2 separate regions of the Homo sapiens genome follow, and region 2 is linked to region 1. The links come from fine-mapping of genetic effects on gene expression. A gene starts in region 1. The other region holds a variant in brackets. All regions are shown on one strand. Distances are from middle to middle. Region 1 holds the start of LINC02898 (long intergenic non-protein coding RNA 2898). Region 2 has its middle 24 kb from the start of PKDCC.

The links. PIP is the estimated chance that this variant, and not a neighbour inherited with it, causes the effect. A credible set is the group of variants that fine-mapping cannot tell apart.
Region 2: its variant is the best candidate, but not a certain one, in a credible set for the expression of LINC02898 in lung (TOPMed, PIP 0.67).

Annotation. Positions count from the first base shown.
Region 1 is chr2:41,951,219-41,955,605 of GRCh38, reverse strand. It overlaps LINC02898 (long intergenic non-protein coding RNA 2898), which reads left to right and starts at 1,800. Exons shown (of 4, transcript NR_161189.1): 1 at 1,800-1,879; 2 at 2,298-2,618. It overlaps LOC124905996 (a long non-coding RNA gene), which reads right to left. Exons shown (of 3, transcript XR_007086296.1): 3 at 2,557-2,995. RefSeq lists an enhancer at 1,925-2,064.
Region 2 is chr2:42,069,495-42,073,881 of GRCh38, reverse strand. No RefSeq gene overlaps it. Among named protein-coding and RNA genes, the nearest start is that of PKDCC, 24 kb to the right of the region's middle. The variant C/T (reference allele first, on the strand shown) is at 2,466.

The DNA of each region.
Region 1 (4,387 bases):
AGGTGGGAGAGAGAGAGGAAGAGAGCCAGAGGAGGTAGGAATATGGAGAGAAAAAGAATACCCCAGGGACAGGGTCTAAAAAATCAATACATAATGAAGCCTGAGCCATGGTGCTAACTCTGCCCCTGACTGTACATCTGACTTGCAGACACTTTATAAGTTGGCTCTCTCCTCCTCCCCACACCCCGTCCTTCCCATCCTCCCTTTCTCATTTTGCCTGGTGGAGGCCTGACCTGTCATGATGCTGCTGGAGTCCGGGTCTCCTCCATCTGTAACTGGGCTCTCACGGTGATGGTGGGGAGGCCAGGACCCTGCTTAGGGGCCACTGCCCGGGCAGGAGGAAACTCCCTCAGCCTCTGTCCTGAGCTGGGTCACCTGTGGAAGGGTGCCCAGGGCCCAAAGGTGAAGGAGGGCTGGCGCGGCTTCTTTGCCCAGGGCTGACCACTCCCAGCATCTCAGGCCAGCAGCCACCCAGCACCATCTGCCTCATTTCCTGTGCTTCCTCCTAGTGAGTGGCAGCTTGGACTCTTGGCTGCAGGCAGTTCTCCTGAACCGGTCACCAGGGCTCAGGATGAGCTATCCAGATGCATCTGTGACAATGTGGCTTTCATCTTCATCACAGTTGACCCCGTGGGAGGAAAGCCCCCTTTCTCCCACTTCAGCCCACATCTCTCTTCCCAGAACAGCAAACTGCCACCCAGGAGGGACTGCCGCTTCCCTGGTCGTGGGAAACTCTGCAGAACCTCCTCTCCTGAGCACTCCTGAGCGAAGAGCCAAGCCAGGGTAAGCCTGTGCATATAAGGCCTCAATTTTAGATTAGATTCCCAAATTTAATTTCCTATTCCTTAATTTAATTCTGCATTTTAGTTTTGTTTTTATTATTTACATGGGTTCCCTTTAATGATTCCAAATTGCTGCTGCCCTCTAGCAGAATTTTGTCTTATGTTAACTTCTTGAAAACTGATCAGCATTGGAGTTTATTCCACGCTGGGTTTAGTTATTTTCTGAAACGAAGCACAATTAAATTAGAATAATGAACATGCTCTTTAGAGGATTAATTCATAATTAGCAGGCCATGTGCTACAGCTCACAGAAGAAAGGGCACAAGGATCGAAAGCTGTTTTTTTCTGCCTAAATATGAAAAGTACATTCTGCAGAGCAGAACAAATCAGCTAATGACATCCAGAGCGCTGGCCAGCCCCAGAGCAGCATGGAGCTGGCACCTTGAGTTAGCGCAATCCCCACCGATGCTGCTGCCTACCTTTCCTCCCCGAGAAGGCTGGCAGCGGGCAATTTGCCTGGCTCTTCTCTCCTCAGCACAGCTGATAGAAGCCACTGTGGACCTCCTAAATTCTACCCCCAGGAAGCCCCAAACTCCACAGCCTGTGGCTTCACAAGCTTCATCCTCAGAGCTTCCTACAGCCCATTCACTCATTCATTCTTTCATCCAAGGAATGTTTTACTAGCTCCTGCTATACACCAGGCATCCATGGGATGGCCCACCCTCGGGATACATCAGGGAAGAAAACATACAAAGACCCCTACCCTTTTGGAAGTTATACTTGAGCAGGCAGAGACAGACAATAAATGGTAAAAATAATAAGTAAATTATGTATTATGTTAGAAGGTGATGAGTGCTAAAGAGGAAGGGGGGTTGAGAGTGGTGTGTGTGTGTGTGTGTGTGTGTGTGTGTGCGCGCGTGCCTGTGTGCTTTGCAGTTTTAAATAGGATGGGTCATGGTAGGCTTATGGGGAAGGTTTCAATTGAGCGAAGACTTGAAGGAAGTGAGAAAGTGAGTCACTTTCAAGCAAGTCACCCAGGTCAAGCCTGTTCTAGAAGAAACAACTATAGCAAAAGCCCTAAGGTTGGAGTGTGGCTGGTGAGTTCGGGAAGGATGGGGCCAGTGGGGGCTGAATGGAGGGAGTGAGTGGGAGATGAGGGGGACCCCATCAAGTGGGGCCTTGGGTTTTTCTCCGAGAGAACTGAAAGTCAGGGCAGGGTTCTGAGCACAGGCAGGACGTGGTCTTTTACTAAAGGATCTCTGGCTGCTGGCTGAGAACAGACTTTACAGGGTCAGGTAGATGGAAGGATGGAAGGTGGGAGACCTGTCAGAAGGCTCACAGCTTAGGCCTCTGAAACTCCAGCCCCAGGTTTTCCCATACCATGTTCTCTGGGCCTGCCAAAGTGCTGAGCTCAGGCCTCAGAACCAGGCACAGAGGCTTAGAGTCTCCTGCAGTCCCCTTTCTCCCAGAAGGACCAGTATATTTATTTTTTTATTTTTTTTATTTTTTAAACAGCCAGAGCTCACACATGGTGAGGATGTCCAGACCATTATTCCTCGATTGGGCCTGGAGACCCCTCTGCAGCCCCTCCCAATCTCTCCCACTGACCTACGGACCAGAAGGCTGGATTTTGCAATGGAAGGGAACTTGCAGGCAGCAGACAGCTCTGCACTGTCCCTTTGATTTTCCTCAGGCACCTCTGAGAGGGAGACACACTCTCAGCCAAGTACCCAACAAGGGACATGAGAAGGCTTCTGCTGTGCAGCTGCCAGAGAAACAGGGGACAGATCAAAGCAGGAGAGGACCAACATCTGCGGTAACCAAAGCAAGGACAAGGTACAAACACATTGAATGAATAAATAAGCAGATGAATGACTGATGGGTGGGGGGAATGAATGATTAATGCATAAATGAATGATTGATGAATAAACAAATGTATAGCCTGGAGCTGGCTCCTGCTCCCTGCTCTTTGGGTATCTTCTCTACTGGGAACCGAAGATTAAAGATGCTCCCGTGACCTTCACCTCTGGAATTCCCTGCTGGAGTTGGGATTACACCTGCTTCTGAGCCCAGAGGTTGGGGAGGCTTTGGCTTAGGATCGGTGGCCCAAGGCTGCAGAGATGTGCTGGCGGAAGGAGGCTGGAAGCAACTGGGGCTGGTCTGGAAGACCCCTGGGCAGCTTGTAGGTTCTGAGTGCGGAGAACTCCAAGGATCTGAGAGGAGAGAAGGGTGTGTTGGGAAGAGGGGAAAAGGAGTGGTTTAGTTTTTCCTTCCTGGTTCTACACGGGACATTCTGCAGATGCTGGGCCTTGGGTTGGTCTCATTCTAGGGCCTGTAAAGATACAGAAGTCTGTCTCAATGGAGCATTTGACTGTATTATCCCAAAAGGCAGGAAGATTTCGGTAATCGAAATTGTCAGAAGCTTCCCCAAAAGGGGCAGGCTGGTGAAGACTTTAGCTCAGGCCCAGGCACTGGCACCACCCAGACGCTTGATGTGCCCCCACTTCCAGAAGTTTGTCTTATAGTGTGGCCAGATCCCCATGCCTCTGGGGGAGAAGTACCCTACTGGGGGAGGGTTTGAGGAAGCAATGTTTAAAGACCCTGGGTCACATGGCTTCACTTCATTTTGGAGAAGCATCTTACCTGGGAATTCCCATAGAATCTAGTTTGGGGCCAAAAGACTGCTCCTAAAGAGTGCATGTACACAGTCCACTTTATGTTCTAGACTTTGATAATCATAATCAAAATGGCTTCCATTTATTGAGTGCTTACCAAGTGTTCGATGTTGGGTTAAGAGTTTTGGCTGGGCAAAGTGGCTCATGCCTGTAATCCCAGCACTTTGGGAGGCAGAGGTGGGCAGATCACCTGAGGTCAGGAGTTCGAGACCAACCTGGCCAACATGGTGAAACCCCCGTCTCTGCTAAAAATACCAAAATTAGCCATACCTGCTGGTGGGCACCTGCAATCCCAGCTACTCAAGAGGCTAAGGTGGGAGAATCGCTTGAACTTGGGAGGCAGAGGTTGCAGCGAGCCAAGATCATGCCACTGCACTCCAGCCTGGTGACAGAGCAAGACGGATAAACAGAGTTTTGCATTCTGACCGGCATGGTGGCTCACGCCTGTATTCTCAGTACTTTGGGAGGCCAAGACAGGCAGATCACCTGATGTCAGAAGTTCGAGACCAGCCTGGCCAACATAGTGAAACCCGTCTCTACTAAAAATACAAAAATTAGCCGGGCATCGTGGCAGGCACCTATAATCCTAGCTACTTGGGAAGCTGAAGCAGGAGAATCACTTGAACTCAGGAGGCAGAGGTTGCAGTGAGCCGAGATCGCGCCACTGCACTCCAGCCTCGGTGACAGAGCGAGACTCTGTCCAAAAAAAAAAAAAAAAGTTTTGTATTTGCATATCATTCAATTATCTTATGAACCCTGGGATGTCCCTCATTTTACAGATGAAACTGAGGCACAGAAAGGCTAAGTGACTTGCTTAGCCTTAGCATCAGCCAAATGGATGATGGCCATTTGGAGCTGAAAACTGAAGGGACTTTTCCTGAGGTCCTACTCTAGCAACTGTGCTGAGCTTTCGCTCCTCTAGCACAGAGA
Region 2 (4,387 bases), 120 kb before region 1:
CAAGCCCAAGTCACTTCAGACCATTTTGCTAGGGAGGTAGAAGAACAGCCAGAGCAGGGTGGACAATGTGGTTGACATGCCAAGAGGTTGGGGTAAGGGGTGATCTAGTGACTACAGTCTGCCCTTATGGGGCACCCCAATATGGTGTCTATTCTCATTGCTCACACCCTTAAGTTTTGGAGGCCAGTGATTAAGAGCACGCATGTGTGACTTGGGAAACCATAAAAATGTGTGTGAAGCTTAGGAGCTAATGTACATGTACAAGCGAGGCTTAGCATCTTATGGAGATGAATATAGGTTCATTTCCTCTGTGAAGATGTGAGTTTAGAATAGATAAGCTTGAGCCTGGCTCCCAAGGTCACCCAGTCTCCAAGACAAAGTCTTCTGGGGTCATTGGCATGACAGAGGCCCAGAATGGAGTCTATGGAGGGGGTTGTTAGCCAAGCCTAAGGAGACATGTGGGAGATGAACCCAAGTTAGGGGCTATGGGGACCCTCACCTTCCTTCCTCAATTGAGGGAGTCTAGCCCTCTCTAGCCACGTCCCCTCCTGCAGACTGCTCCTTCCATTGGGGCACAGAGCAGAAGCCTAGGGACCTGTCACTTACCAGATGACTGTTGGAGGGCTGTTTAGGTTCTGATAGAGTGGGCTTTTCATTTTGAGAGTTGATTCTATTTCTTCATCAGTAAGTAGGAGCTAGGGAAGAGAAAGCATGCAAAAGGGCAAGAATCAGGAGAATTGATATAGTAGCTGGACAGAACTCTAGATGTGTGTGTGTGAGAGAAAGAGAGGCAGGGAGAAGGAGGGAGGAGTTACCCCCACGATGACCTCCAACTTCCCTTTCTGCACCCTCATCCTGGGGATAGCACAGGCTCAGGCCTGCCCTGGTTGCCCTGGCGATTGGCCTGGCCTGGGCTCAGGGGTGGGGGAGGGGCTGCACCACATTAGGACCTGCCGTACTCCAATCCCATGCAGTCCTCCTGCTCCTGCTGCTGCGTGCCTGGGCTCTGGTCATGCCAGGCTTCCTTGTGTCCTGCGTCTGTGGCCGGTTCCTGCCAACCTGTCTAGTCCTTTCAGGCTTGAGGCCCTGCATTGCTCTTTCTGGTCCTCTCCCCTCCTTCCCGCTCCCCATCTAGCCTTTTTTGGGTTCCGGGATCTGCTGACAGACTTTCTTCTTGCTGCCTGCCTGCTTACATTTCAGAAGACCCCTCTGGAACTGCCCATGGCTGTGGTCCACCTGCTGGTAGCAACGCCCTGTTACCAAATGCTAGATAATCTGCCACTCCCCTCTGCAGCCGCCAACTGGTGCTGAGCTGCCACCTGTTGTCTGTTTCCACACCCTTGTACACTGCATTCTGCCTGTCACTCTGGACAGCTGCCCAGCAGCTGCAGCTGAGGCCGTCCTGCCAGCACCTACCGCAGCCCCATGGGTGGTCCTGTCCAGTTCCTGGCGCTCCCAGCCTGCCTCATCTGCTGTACTTACAGAGCCACATCTGGTTGAATACAGAGCTGGGGTAGCCTGGATGGGCCCATGGCACACTCACTCCCAGAGAGGCGGGCATCCTCTCTCTGGACCTCTAGGGAAGGGCAGGGTCTGGAGCCCAATAATAAAACACAGTAATGATAATCATAGCTAATGTTTACTGAGAACTTAGGATGTGATAGGCTCAATGATTTACCAGAATTACTCTATACTGCATAACTACCCTATCAGGTAAGTACTATTAATATCCCCTTTCCCACATGAAGAAACTAAGGCTAAACAATAGAAATGAACCTGTGTAATGTCCCATGGGCATAATTCATGGAGCCAGGATTCAGAACCAGGTGCTTTACTTCAGGGCTGAAGCTCATAACCACTAGACCAAAGCGCCTCCTCCGTGACCTCTGGGGAAGGCCCAGCAACATCCTCTATTGCGTCCAATGACTTCTCCCTGGTCTGAGATCCACTGACTCACAGGGGTAGGGTTAAGGTTAAGGCCAGAGTCTCAGCTAAGCTTTGGATACTTTCTTCTGGATTTGGAGAAGGCTGGAATAACTGAATTTCTGCTCATCTTCAGGAGCGGCCTACTAGAGCCACACATTTCCCAGCTCTCCTTGTGTGTTTCCCAGACCCTTCTTCCATCGTGTCCTCTCCCTTAGGCTCCTGGAAAGTTTTCAGAGAGAATCACCCAGTGGTAACATTGTTAAACAAAACAGGAAAATGGGACTTGTGTGTATATATGATTAAATTATTAATTGATGGATCTACCTTCTTAGAAGGGTCAAAGACTGAATGAACAGAGAAGAAGAAAGGAGAGGGTCCCCTGGAGGTGGCAAAAGTCTTTTTTTTTTTTTTTTGAGATGGAGTCTTGCTCTGTTGCCCAGGCTGGAGTGCAGTGGTGTGATCTCAGCTCACTGCAAGCTGCACCTCCTGGATTCACACCATTCTCCTGCCTCAGCCTCCCGAGAAGCTGGGACTACAGG[C/T]GCCTCCCACCACGCCTGGCTAATTTTTTTGTATTTTTAGTAGAGATGGGGTTTCACTGTGTTAGCCAGGATGGTCTCGATCTCCTGACCTCGTGATCCACCCGCCTCAGCCTCCCAAAGTGTTGGGATTGAGCCACCGTGCCCAGCTGGCAAAAGTCGTTTTTGTTTATTATTTTATTTATTTATTTATTTATTTATTTATTTATTTATTTATCTATTTGAGACGGAGTCTCACTCTGTCGCCCAGGCTGGAGTGCAGTGGCGTGATCTCCGCTCACTACAAGCTCTGCCTCCCGGGTTCATGCCATTCTCCTGCATCAGCCTCCCAAGTAGCTGGGACTACAGATGCCCACCACCATGCCCGACTAATTTTTTGTATTTTTAGAAGAGACAGGATTTCACCATGTTAGCCAGGATGGTCTTAATCTCCTGACCTCGTGATCCACCCGCCTCAGCCTCCCAAAGTGCTGGGATTACAAGCATGAGCCACCGCACCCAGCCTATTTTTTATATTTTTTGAGATGGAGTCTTACTCTGTTGCCCAGGCTGGGGTGCAGTGGCATGATCTTGGCTCACTGCAACCTCTGCCTCCCGGGTTCAAGTGATTCTCCTGCCTCAGCCTACTGAATAGCTGGGATTACAGGCACCTGCCACCACGCCTGGCTAATTTTTGTGTTTTTGGTAGTGACAGGGTTTCCAGGCTGGTCTTGAACTTCTGACCTCAGGTGATCCACCCATCTCGGCCTCCCAAAGTGCTGGGATTACAGGTGTGAGCCAACACGCCCGGCCAAAAGTCTTTAAGGAAAAGAGGGAGGGGCTTTTTGGAAGAGGCAGTGGTGCAGATCACCTTGGCTTTAGCCCTGCCTCAAAGCAGCTATGGGGAGAGGAAAAGGAAGGATACGTGCTGGATTGGGGGTACTTCAGTTTCTAACAGAATAATTACATACAGGTGCTCCTTGACTCATGACATGATTACATCCCAATAAATCCATTGTAAGTTGAAAATATTGTAAGTTGAAGATGCATTTAATACACCTAATCTGCCAGACATCCAGCTTAGCCTAGCCTATCTTAAACATGCTCAGAGCACTTTAATTATCCTACAGTTCGGCAAAATCATTTAACACAAAGCCTATTTTATAATATGGGTTGAATATTTCATGTAATTTATTGAATATTGTACTAAAAGTGAAAAACAGAACGGTCGTATGGGTGCTCAGTGTACAGTTTCTACTGAATATGTGTAACTTTCACATGTTATAAAGTTGAAAAATTGTAAGTTGAACCATCATCATTTGGGGACCATCTGTACTGTGGATTGGTGAAAGGGATGGAGATGGTGTAGGATGGTGGTTTGGAGGGGTTAGATACAGGCATGACTACAACTGGGTCAGTTCACTGTTTCGTAGCGAAACAATGTTTGGTGATTTTTGCATCCCATTTATTCTTGGAAAAACAAGTTCTTGAGAAAGATATCAAGGGGCATCTCCTCTTCTCTTAGCAGCTTTCAGTTGTCATTCAGAAAGGAGACAGGTCTATTTTCTAGGAAGCCAGCATATGGGCTGCAGCCAACTCAGTCATACTGATATTGTAAGTCCTCAGTCCTACAATATGAGTACGTGGCTCTGCCCTGGGCCTTTCTCATTTGCAAGGCTCCTCCAGCCTGGCTGGGCTGGGCTGAGCTGGACAGGGAGCTGCTGCTCATCCCTCCCTCCTCCCGGGTTCATTTCTGTTTGGGAGTATGGGCAGGTTATGAGCTTCTGCCTTTTGGCTGTGCTTCCTGGGCACCAAGAAGGAAAAAGAAAAGGAAGGTATCTGTAGGCTCTAGGTTATTAGAGCCCAGGAGGGCAGAAGGGAGAAGGAAGGCAGATGGAGAGGAGGATGGACTAAACAGGCTGATGGATGGACAAATGAGCAGGCTC